2 separate regions of the Homo sapiens genome follow, and region 1 is linked to region 2. The links come from fine-mapping of genetic effects on plasma protein levels. A gene starts in region 2. The other region holds a variant in brackets. All regions are shown on one strand. Distances are between the middles of the regions.

Region 1 (5,384 bases), 270 kb before region 2:
GGAATTGCCTGTGTCCGTAACCCCTGGCAGCCGGGCTTTTCCGTTTCCTAACTGTCCTGCTTCTATCGCCTTCAATTAAAGTCTACCTTTTTCAGCTGACAAACTCTAAGGAGTAAATGTCTCTATGCCTCTGCTTCCTCAGGAGTAAAATGAGGGCAATTCTCTCTGTCCTGTCTACTTCACAGAACTATTGGGGAAAAAATTAATGTGCAAAGAAATATACATTGGAAAGCATGATTCATATGTAAAAGGATATTCACTGTGTATGCTTAATCATAGGTATGCTGCCTAAAAAATCAAGGACAGGATTTTTGAACATAAAACTGGGCAGGAATGAATTAACTTTAGGGAGGATTTTGAGCTGGGAACTCTGAGTTTTTTAAATCAAAAATTGTCCTATTCCCACCCAAACAAAGAGAAAGGAAAGGCCAAGGAAATGGGTTTTCGAGAGACAGAAATATCACTGTCTTCTTAACTGATTTGTTTCACTTTTGAAAATATAATAAAGACAAAGACATCTGGGAGACCAAGATGGAGGGCGTGGAGACAAGGGCGGGGCTTGCTCAAGAGTTGCAGAGGAAGGTAAAATGAGGACGCAAAGGTTCTGTAGGATAAGCAAAGTTGTTCTATGTGGAGTAGACATAGAAGGGAAGTTTAAAAAATGCCTTATCAGATAAAAATAAATTAAATTGTGCTTTAGGAAAAGAGAGAGAAAAGCTGTGAGATACTTGTTAGAAAGAAACGATTCAATGAGAAGCTAAAAAGAGGAGTAAATCCTTTCAATCAAGAAGAAAACAAAAGCTTGCCTGGTAATCCCACCTCACTGTCTTTCCACTCACAATTATCGCCACGCCCTGAGGAATTGGAAGAGAAATTTCAAAGTTCTTGAAGTATTTGCTTAATAATGTCAATTGATGAGCAACGTCATGGGGATAGAAACCAGAACACGAGTTTTAATTCATGTTAGGGGGAAAAAAAAAAAGAAAAGCCATAGGGAGAACAAATAAATAGCTGGCTTTTGTTGTGCTTCCCTGGTGATTACACAGGTTTGACCAAACTAACTCCCAAAGGGGAGATAGAGAACTAAGAGAGAATTGGAGTACTCACTGGGCAGAAACCCTAAGTTCTGCAACACTAGATGTGGTCCATGAGATAAAAAATGTCAGCTTCCTGGAAGATCATCTCACTTTTGAAAATATTATAAAATATATCAAAAGCTCAGAATACTTAAAAGAATACCTGTATCTAATAGCTTTATCAAACATTAACATTTGGTCATTTCAAATCTTTTAAAAGAAGGGATACTTTACAAATATATGTAAACTCCTATAACATTTTCCTCCTCCCATGCCCATAAGAAATCCCTTTCTGGCATTAAATGTTTACCCCTTTTTTTTTTTTTAAGATGGAGTCTCACTCTGTTGCCCAGGCTGGAGTGCAGTGGCATGATCTTGGCTCACAGCAACCTCTGCCACCAGGGTTCAAGCGATTCTCCTGCCTCAGCCTCCTGAGTAGCTGGGATTACAGGCACCTGCCACCGCGCCCAGCCAATTTTTGTAGTTTTTTTTGTTTTTTTGTTTTTTTGTTTTTTTGTTTTTTCAGTAGAGATGGCATTTCACTATGTTGGTCAGGCTGGTCTCAAACTCCTGATTTCATGATCCACCTGCCTTGGCCTCCCAAAGTGCTGGGATTACAGGTGTGAGCCACTGCGCCCGGCCAAATGTTTACCCCTTTTCATCGTACTTTATGTTTTGTTACATACACATGTATCTCTATAATATTGGATTTCATGCTTTTAAACTTTATATTAAGCACTATTCTTTTTTATGTGAAACTTGCTTTTATCACATAAATTGATATACGTAAGTGTAGTTCATTTATTTATTTTATTTGCTACACAACCATAGTATTTTCCTGTGATATTCATTTACTTTGTTATCAAATCTTTATTGTTTTGAAAAGCTACAATGAATATTTTTGCATAAGTATCCTTGAGCATGTGTGCTGAACATTCTGTAGAACAGGGGTCCCCAGTCCCTCGGCCACGGACCCCTACTGGTCCATGGCCTGTTAGGAATGGGTCTGCACAGCAGGAGGTGAGCAGCAGGCTAGTAAGCATTACTGCCTATCAGATCAGCAAAGGTATTAGATTCTCATAGGAGCACCAACCCTATTGTGAACTGTGCACATGGGGGTGGATCCCTCATGAATGGCTTAGTGCCAAACCCTTGGTGATCAGTGAGTTCCCCTCTCTGAGTTCTGGTTGTTTAAAAGAGTGTGGTACTTCCCCCCATCTCTCTCTGGAGAGGGAGAATCGCTCTGTCACCCAGGTTGCAGTGCAGTGGCGCGATCTCAGCTCACTGCAACCTCTGCCTCCTGCTCAAGCGATTCTCCCGCCTCAGCCACCCAAGCAGGTGGGATTACAAGCGTGCGCCGTCACACCTGGCTAATTTTTGTATTTAGTAGAGACCGGGTTTCATCATGTTGGACAGGCTGGTCTGGAACTCCAGGCCTCAAGTGATCCGCCCTCCTTGGCCTCCCAAAGTGTTGGGATTACAGGCGTAAGCCACCGTGCTGGGCTGTCCCCCCATCTCTCTTGCTCCCTCTCTCACCATATGATGCACTGACTCTGCCTTTACCTTCTTCCATGATTGAAAGATTCCTGAGGCTGTCCCCAGAAGCAGATGCTGGCACCACACTTCTTGTACAGCCTGCGGAAACATGAGCCAAATAAAATCTCTTTTATAAAAAAAAAATTACCCAATCTCAGGTATTCCTTTATAGCAACACGAAAATGGACTAATGCATTCTCCAAAGCAGTTGCATTAATTTACTTTCCCATTCCCAGTATATGAAAGTTCCCATTTATCCACATTGTATTCAATCTTTTAAATTAACTACTTAATTTGCTAATCTAAAGGGTATGATTTGTTCCTAAACACTTTACAGTTTTATTGCCATTGTTGATGATATACCATTATCTATTACAGTTGCAATTTGCTTATTACTGGTATATAGAAATACAATTTTTTTATATTGATCTTGGATCTAGCAGCATTCAATGACTTTCTGATTAACTCATGTAGATTCTCTTAGATTTCCTATGTAGTCAAATATGTTGACTGCAAATAAGGTCTGCTTTGGAATGTCTTTGTAAGTTTTATACCTTCCATTATTTCTCATCTTATTGCATTGTCTC[G/A]TAGGTCCAGTAGAATGTAGAATGGTTGTGACAATATAGTGTAATAAAGTTTCATCATTAATGTTTGTAAGATTTTGATAGATACTTTTTGTGCAGTTAAGAGTATTGTCTTCTATCCATAGGTGCTAAGAGTTTGGTTGGTTGTTTCTACATAAATTGAAAAGCCTTACCCATGCTTCCATCTTAAAGTCTATATTCCTAACATTCTTCCCCCAGATATCAGCATGCCTGGCTTTCTTCCTTCACCTCTTCTACTCAAATGTCATCTATAAAAGGAACACTTTATATAATAGCAACTTGCTCCTCCTAACACTAATTCTGCTAATTTTTCCCCTTAAATGAGTAAGTATGAGAATGCATAAGGTTTATCAAACGTGCTTTCTATTTTCTGTATCTATTACATTGACCATATTTTTTCCTCTTAATTGATTGTATGTTATTCTTAGGATCAATTAATCTTGGCCATGGGGTGAGGGGGAAATATATATATATAAATAATGTATGTATATATATATAATATACATATGTATACACACACACAACATTTTATTTAGAATGTTTAAATCTGTATTTATGAGAAATACTGGTCTTTTTTTAATAGCTTTGTTACAAAAGTATAATAACCTCATAAAATGAATTGAGTGCTTTTCCTCACTATTTTTCTTTTTCTTTTTTTTTTTTATTATACTTTAAGTTCTAGGGTACATGTGCACAATATGCAGGTTTGTTACGTATGTATACATGTGCCATGTTGGTGTGCTGCACCCATTAACTCGTCATTTACATTAGGTATATCTCCTAATCCTATCCCTCCCCGCTCCCCTCACCCCACAACAGGCCCCGGTGTGTGATGTTCCCCTTCCTGTGTCCACGTGTTCTCATTGTTCAATTTCCACCTATGAGTGAGAACACCCTCACTATTTTTTGAAAGGTAGAGATTATCTGTTTGTTGAAGGTTTGTTAAATTATTCTATAAAAATCAACTGGGACTTCTGTCTTAAGGTCAGGGGCAGTGGGCAAAGCACTATGGGGTGAAGCACTTTCTCCTAATGGGACTTTGACTTTGTACTAAGAAAAGAATGGTCAGCCTAGGAACTTCTGCTGCTACCTCACTGTCCAGAACTGGTCACATGACTATCTTTGTTGCAAGAGAGGCTGAGAAATTAAGTATTTTTAGTTAGGCACATTGTCTTCCTGAAAAGAAAAATCAAGATTCTGCTATTAAGGATGACGAAAAAGCAATGGCAACTGGGTAGGCAGCCACCAATGCCTTCTACAATAAAACTATTAGATATGCTGGAATGTTGGGACCTTTCAATCTATCCTTCATGTATCTTAACTGAAGTAAATAGATAAATAAACAAATACACATCTATGTATTCAGAATAAATACACACAAACACACACACACACCTTTGTCTCTCTGGGGTATATTTTGGGTGAATTTCTCAATACTCTCTTCATCTTTCTAATTCAGTCTTCAATTTTATATAGATTAGAGTTTGTTTCATCATTATGAGTTAAATTCTATCCCCTCTCCTAAAAAAATATCTTGAAGCCCTAACCCCCAATACCTCAGAATATGGCATTATTTGGAGACAGAGGTTATCAAGTTAAAATGAGGTCATTAGAGTAGGCATTAATATAATCTGACTGGTGTTCTTATAAAAAGGGGAAGTTTGCAGACAGACACACATGCACACACAGAGACAGAGAAAGAGAGAAGAGAGAGAATGCCACAAGAAGATGAGGGCAGAGATCAGTGTGAAATGTGCATGGTGGTGCGTGCCTGTAGTCCCAGCTACTAGGGAGGCTGAGGCAGGAGAATGGCGTGAACCCAGGAGGCAGAGGTTGCAGTGAGCCAAGATCGTGCCACTGCACTCCAGCCTGGTGACAGAGGGAGACTCTGTCTCAAAAAAAAAAAAAAAAAAAAAAATCATATTAGTGTCCTAAAAACCTTTTATCCTATATTTTTACTGTACCTTTTAAAATGCTACACCTGTTTAGGGCACTTACTATGAATGGAGTTTGCAGGACTGGAAGTTGCTGTTAGTCAATGAGTGAATGATAAATGAATATGAAGGCCTAGGACACTACTGTATACTACTGTAGACTGTAGGCTGTGGACTTTATAAACACTGCACATTTAGGCTACACTAAATTTACAAAAACATTTTTATGTTTA
Region 2 (5,384 bases):
CCATTGTGCTTCAGCCCAGGTGACAGAGCAAGACTCTGTCTCAAAATAAACAAAACAGTGAGACCCTATGGACCACCACTCTCAATGCCCAGTTAAAATTATACAACCCAATATAAAACAAAACAGGGCCTTCAAGGACTAAAACTTGTTATGTAAGACCTACTTCAGCCAGGCACGGTGGCTCACGCCATGCTGTAATCTCAGCACTTTGGGAGGGAAAGCCAGGTGGATCACGAGGTCAGGAGTTCAAGACCAGCCTGACCAACATGGTAAAACCCCATCTCAACTAAAACAAAATACAAAAATTAGCTGGGCGTGGTGGTACGTGCCTGTAATCCCAGCTACTTGGGAGGCTGAGGCAGGAGAATTGCTTGAACCCGGGAGGTGGAGGTTGCGGTGAGCTGAGATTGTGCCACTGCACTCCAGCCTGGGCGACAGAGCAAGACTCTGTCTCGCAAAAAAAAAAAAAAAAGAAAGAAAGAAAGAAGTACTTTGTGAAAGTAATTATCCCTACTGCTTCTCCATTTAACAGCCCAATTTGGCCTGTTAAATTTGGTAAGAATGAATGGTACCTCATGGTTCATTACTGCATCCTCGATGATGTCATTTTACCCAGGAAGGCCCCTATACTCAACATTGTTGAAATTACTGACTATCCAGTCCACAACTAGTAAATATTTTGCTGTGATAGATTTGGCTAATATGTTCTGTTCAGTGTCTCTTTCAACACCTCCTCAGCCATAGTTGGTCTTCACCTCCAGAGAGACATAACATCTCTTTACCAGGCTAACCATAGAGTACGCAGTCTTGCCATCATACACAGCCTTTACAGGAAAGATCTTAACTGCATCAAATTTTCTCCAGGAGCACAAGTATAACATTCCATTGATGACATCCTCCCCTGAGGACAGTCTTTTGACATACTCACAAAGGAGCTCACAAAAGGAGGATGGGCTATTGTGCCACACATAGTGTAAGGCCTACCACCTTGGTTAAATTTCTGAAAATAATTTGGTCTCTGTCACCCAGGCTGGAGTGCAATGGCACAAACAGGGGTCACTGCAGTCTCAACCTCCTGTGCTCAAGTGATCTTCCTATCTCAGCCTCCCAAATAGCTAGGACCACAGGCGCCACACAACCATGCCCAGTTAATTTTTCTTTCTTTTTTTTTTTTATTTTGGTAGATACAGGGTCTTGCTTTGTTGCCCAGGCTGGTCTCAAATTCCTGTCCTCAAGCGATACTTCTTTCTGCCTTGGCCTCCCAAAGTGCTAGAATTACAGGCATGAGCCACTGCACTGGGCCACAATGGCTGACTTAAATTCAAATTCAAATTCAAATGGTGCAGGTCAGTCATCAAACATCAAGGGTGAAAAAAAGACCTGGAGCCAGTTTTTTCCTGAGGCTCTCTTAAGCCATTTTAGTGCTGCTTGAGAGGCCTGCCTTGCTCTCCCTGGAGACCTTAATTATGTAAGTAAAAGACTTTTTCAGGGCCGGGCGCGGTGGTGGCTCAAGCCTGTTATCCCAGTACTTTGGGAGGCCGAGGCGGGCGGATCATGAGGTCAGGAGTTCAAGACCATCCTGGCTAACACGGTGAAACCCCGTCTCTACTAAAAACACAAAAAATTAGCCGGGCGTGGTGGCGGGCGCCTGTAGTTCCAGCTACTGGGGAGTCTGAGGCAGAAGAATGGCGTGAACCCGGGAGGCAGAGCTTGCAGTGAGCCGAGATTGCGCCACTGCACTCCAACCTCAGGGTGTGTGTGTGGCATCATCAGTTTCTACTCCAACCTCATGGTGTGTGTGTGGCATCATCAGTTTCTACACCTGAATCAAATTTGGGATGGGGGTCCATTCTGGCTTTCTGGGGTGGCTACAGTAGATTCCTGTCTCTCTGACTTATTAGCTGTGTGGTCCTTAGCAAAGTCAATCTCTGTACATCTGTTCCTTAACTCTACAATAGAGGAAATAATTTTATCTCTAGTCTAGACAATAAGCTTATTGAGAGCAGGGATCATGTCTGTGTTAATCACCATCTAATCCCGAACACCCAGTGCCAGGGACATAACTGAATCAGTGACTGATTGGGTTCATGAATATCCAGCTTGACTATTTCATAGTAATGTTTTTCAAATCAAGTGAAATAACACTCATTCATCTGTTCATTCAACAATTATTTGTGTACCTCCACTAATCTGTAAACTATAACGCTCTTCAGAAGATATAGCACTGACCGCAGTTCTCTAAAAGTAAAATACATACACACAAACCAATGTAGAAGGAGGATGGTGTTCAGAAACGCAGGCGCCCGTCCAACAAAAGCGGGGTTTCATCCTGAATATTAATAAGCACGCTTTCCGTTTTGTCAAATAAGGTAGTAAACAAATAAAACTAGACTAGTTGAAATCAAAAACTTGGCTGACAGCACAGTGATTTAAACTATCCGGACCTTTACAACAGGGCTGAGAATGAAAGGAAGGGGGCAAGGCTGGAAAAAACGTTGACAGTGGGTCAGAATCACGACCATGGGGCCTGACCCAAGGGGGCCTGGGGCTGAGACATCCGCACCAGGACATTTCGGGACCAAATTCAAGCCCTCAACGCCCACAGGGAAGCAAATGTCCCCACCACCGCCCGTAGGGAAAGGGCTCGCAGAGGCACAGGAAACCGTTTCCTCGGTAACAACTTTCCGTATTACTCCAAAGAGCACGAAGAAAAGGGAAGGGAGGGATTAACTGTAATCTGAGAAGGTTCAAGCAATCACCGTGAGAAAAAGTAGGCTAAAGCCACAGATGGGAACCTGCCCCAGCGAGGCCCGCGGCTTACCTGACGGACAGTCGGAGCGCCCTCCATCGCGGCTCCCTCCGCCGCCGCGGCACCGCCCCGCGCGCACCGCACCGCACCGCCCCGCGCCCACCTCCAGCGCGCGCTGCGAGTTACAGGCTCCGCGCGCCTCCTCCGCCGGCCCTCCGAGTACTTCCAGCCGCAGCTCCTTGCGCCCTCTGGCGGCCGTGAAGGATTCCTGACGATGGGTGTTACCGGGTTAGCCTGAAGGCTTGTCTTTCTAGGGGTCACAATGAGACTTCCCTATTCCCAACCTCAAACTACTGTGCCTCCCAGGAAATGGCATACCCTGCCCCAATGTGCGAAAAGGTGAATTGCTCGGAAACTTTTTTTTTTTTTTTTTGAGACGGAGTTTCGCTCTCATTCCTCAGGCTGGATGGAGTGCCAAGGCCCCGTCTCGGCTAACTGCAACCTCCGCCTCCCAGTTCAAGCGATTCTCCTGCCTCAGCCTCCCGAGTAGCTGTGGTTACAGGCGCCTGCCACCACGCCCGGATAATTTTTGTATTTTTAGTAGAGACAAGGTTTCACCATGTGGGTCAGGCTGGTCTCGAACTCCCCACCTCAGGCAATCCGCTGGCCTTGGCCTCCCAAAGTGCTGGGATTACAGGCGTCAGCCACCGCCCCCGGCCAGGAAACTCTTGTTCCTTCCAATAAAGGATTGAAGTTACTGATTAACTGCTGTACGTATTGCAGATTCTTGGTTCTGTAAACCAAAAATAAAATGCCGAGGCCCACCCCCAGCCATCTAAATGGACCCCTCCTCTTGGCCAAGAGCGTTCCAAATTTAACCTGAAAATCTAGTTCAGGCCATGATGAAAGAGGGGATTGGACATGCCTCATTAACATCAACACAGACCTTAAGTCTGAGAAGAAATATTTATCATCTATTGCCTCGGACACCTGCTACTTGGAGGCTGCATCTGCATGATAAAACCTTGGTATCCACAACCCCTTATCCTAACCCAGACATTCCTTTCTACTGATAATAACTCTTTTTTCTCTTTTTCTTTTGAGACAGGTTCTGGCTCTATTAGACCAGCTGGAGTGCGGTGGCGCAATCTCTGCTCACTGCAACCTCCACCTCCCGGACTCAACCAATCCTCCCACCTCAGCCTCTCGAGTAGCTGGGACTACTGGCGTGTGCCACCATGCTTAACTACTTTGTTTGTTTGTTTGTTTGTTTGTTTGTTTGTTTTTTGAGACAGGGTTTCGCCATGTTGCCCAGACTGGTCTCGAACTCCTGGACTCAAGCAGTCTGCCCCCTTCGGCCTCCCAAAGTGCTGGGATTACACGTGCAAGCCACAGCTCCCAGTCAATAATAACGCTTTCAACCAATTGCAAATCAGAAAATTTTTTTATGTACCAATGACCTGAAAGTTCCTCCTTCTCGCCTTGGAGCTGTCTCCCCTTCCAGATTGAAACAATGTAAATCTTACATGTATTGATTGATGTATTAGGTCTGCCCAAAATATATAAAAGCAAGCTGTACCCCAACCACCTTGGACACATGTCATTGGGACTTCCTGAGACTGTGTCACAGGTGTGTCCTTAACCTTCACAAAATAAATTTTCTAAATTAACTGAGGCCTGTCTCAGATATTTGGGGTTCAGAGTTCCCAACCAAACAGCTATAAAAAAGACATTCTAAGCCAGGCACAGTGGCTAACTCATGTAATTCCAGCACTTTGGGAGACTAAGGTGGGAGGGTTGCTTGTGTCCAGGAGTTCAAGACCAGCCTGGGCAAAACAGGGGGGCCCCATCTCCAGAAAAGAGAGACAGAGAGAGAGAAAGAAAGAGAGAGAGAGGGAAGGAAGGAAGGAAGGAAAGAAGGAAGGAAGGGAGGGAGGGAAGACATTCTAGAACAATTGAGGAATAGTGAATATGAAATGGCTATTAGAGTTGATGTTACAGGATAATTAATGATTTATGTATACATTTATGGATATTCATTTATGGATAATTAATAATTTTTGGCAGCTGGGCGTGGTGGCTCAAGCCTGTAATCCCAGCACTTTGGGAGGCTGAGGTGGGAGGATCACCTGAGGTCAGGAGTTTGAGACCAACCTGGCCAACATGGTGAAACCCTGTCTCTACTAAAAATACAAAAATTAGTCGGGCGTGATGGTGAGCACCTGTAATCTCAGCTACTTGGGAGGCTGAGGCAGGAGAATCGCTTGAACCTGGAAAGTGGAGGCTGCAGGGAGCCGAGATCAGGCCATTGCACTCCAGCCTGGGCAAGAAGAGTGAAACTCCGTCTCAAATAATAATAATAAATAATAATAATAATAATAACTTGTGGCTATGTTGCAGGGTGTCTTTAATATTAGAAAACTCACACTAAAATATTTAGGAGTTCCCTGTTATCCATGGGGATGTAAAAAAAAAAAAGTATTTAGGAGTGAAGTAGCACCATGTCTGCAACTTGCTTCCAAATGCTTCCACGAAGATGAATACACAGAGAAAACAAAATAGCGAAACGTTAATTATTGGACCTAAGTGGAGGGTATACTACTATTCAGTTATTCTTTTACTGTTTACATATATT

The links. A credible set is the group of variants that fine-mapping cannot tell apart. PIP is the chance, under the fine-mapping model, that this variant and not a neighbour inherited with it causes the effect. Sun 2018 read protein levels with aptamers (SomaScan).
Region 1: its variant is the best candidate, but not a certain one, in a credible set for the plasma level of the GRAMD1C protein (Sun 2018, PIP 0.51).

The regions. Positions count from the first base shown.
Region 1 is chr3:114,105,184-114,110,567 of GRCh38, reverse strand. No RefSeq gene overlaps it. Among named protein-coding and RNA genes, the nearest start is that of QTRT2, 51 kb to the right of the region's middle. The variant G/A (reference allele first, on the strand shown) is at 3,200.
Region 2 is chr3:113,836,374-113,841,757 of GRCh38, reverse strand. It overlaps GRAMD1C (GRAM domain containing 1C), which reads right to left and starts at 2,970. Exons shown (of 18, transcript NM_017577.5): 1 at 2,822-2,970. The coding sequence starts at 2,848. RefSeq lists a silencer at 2,758-2,957.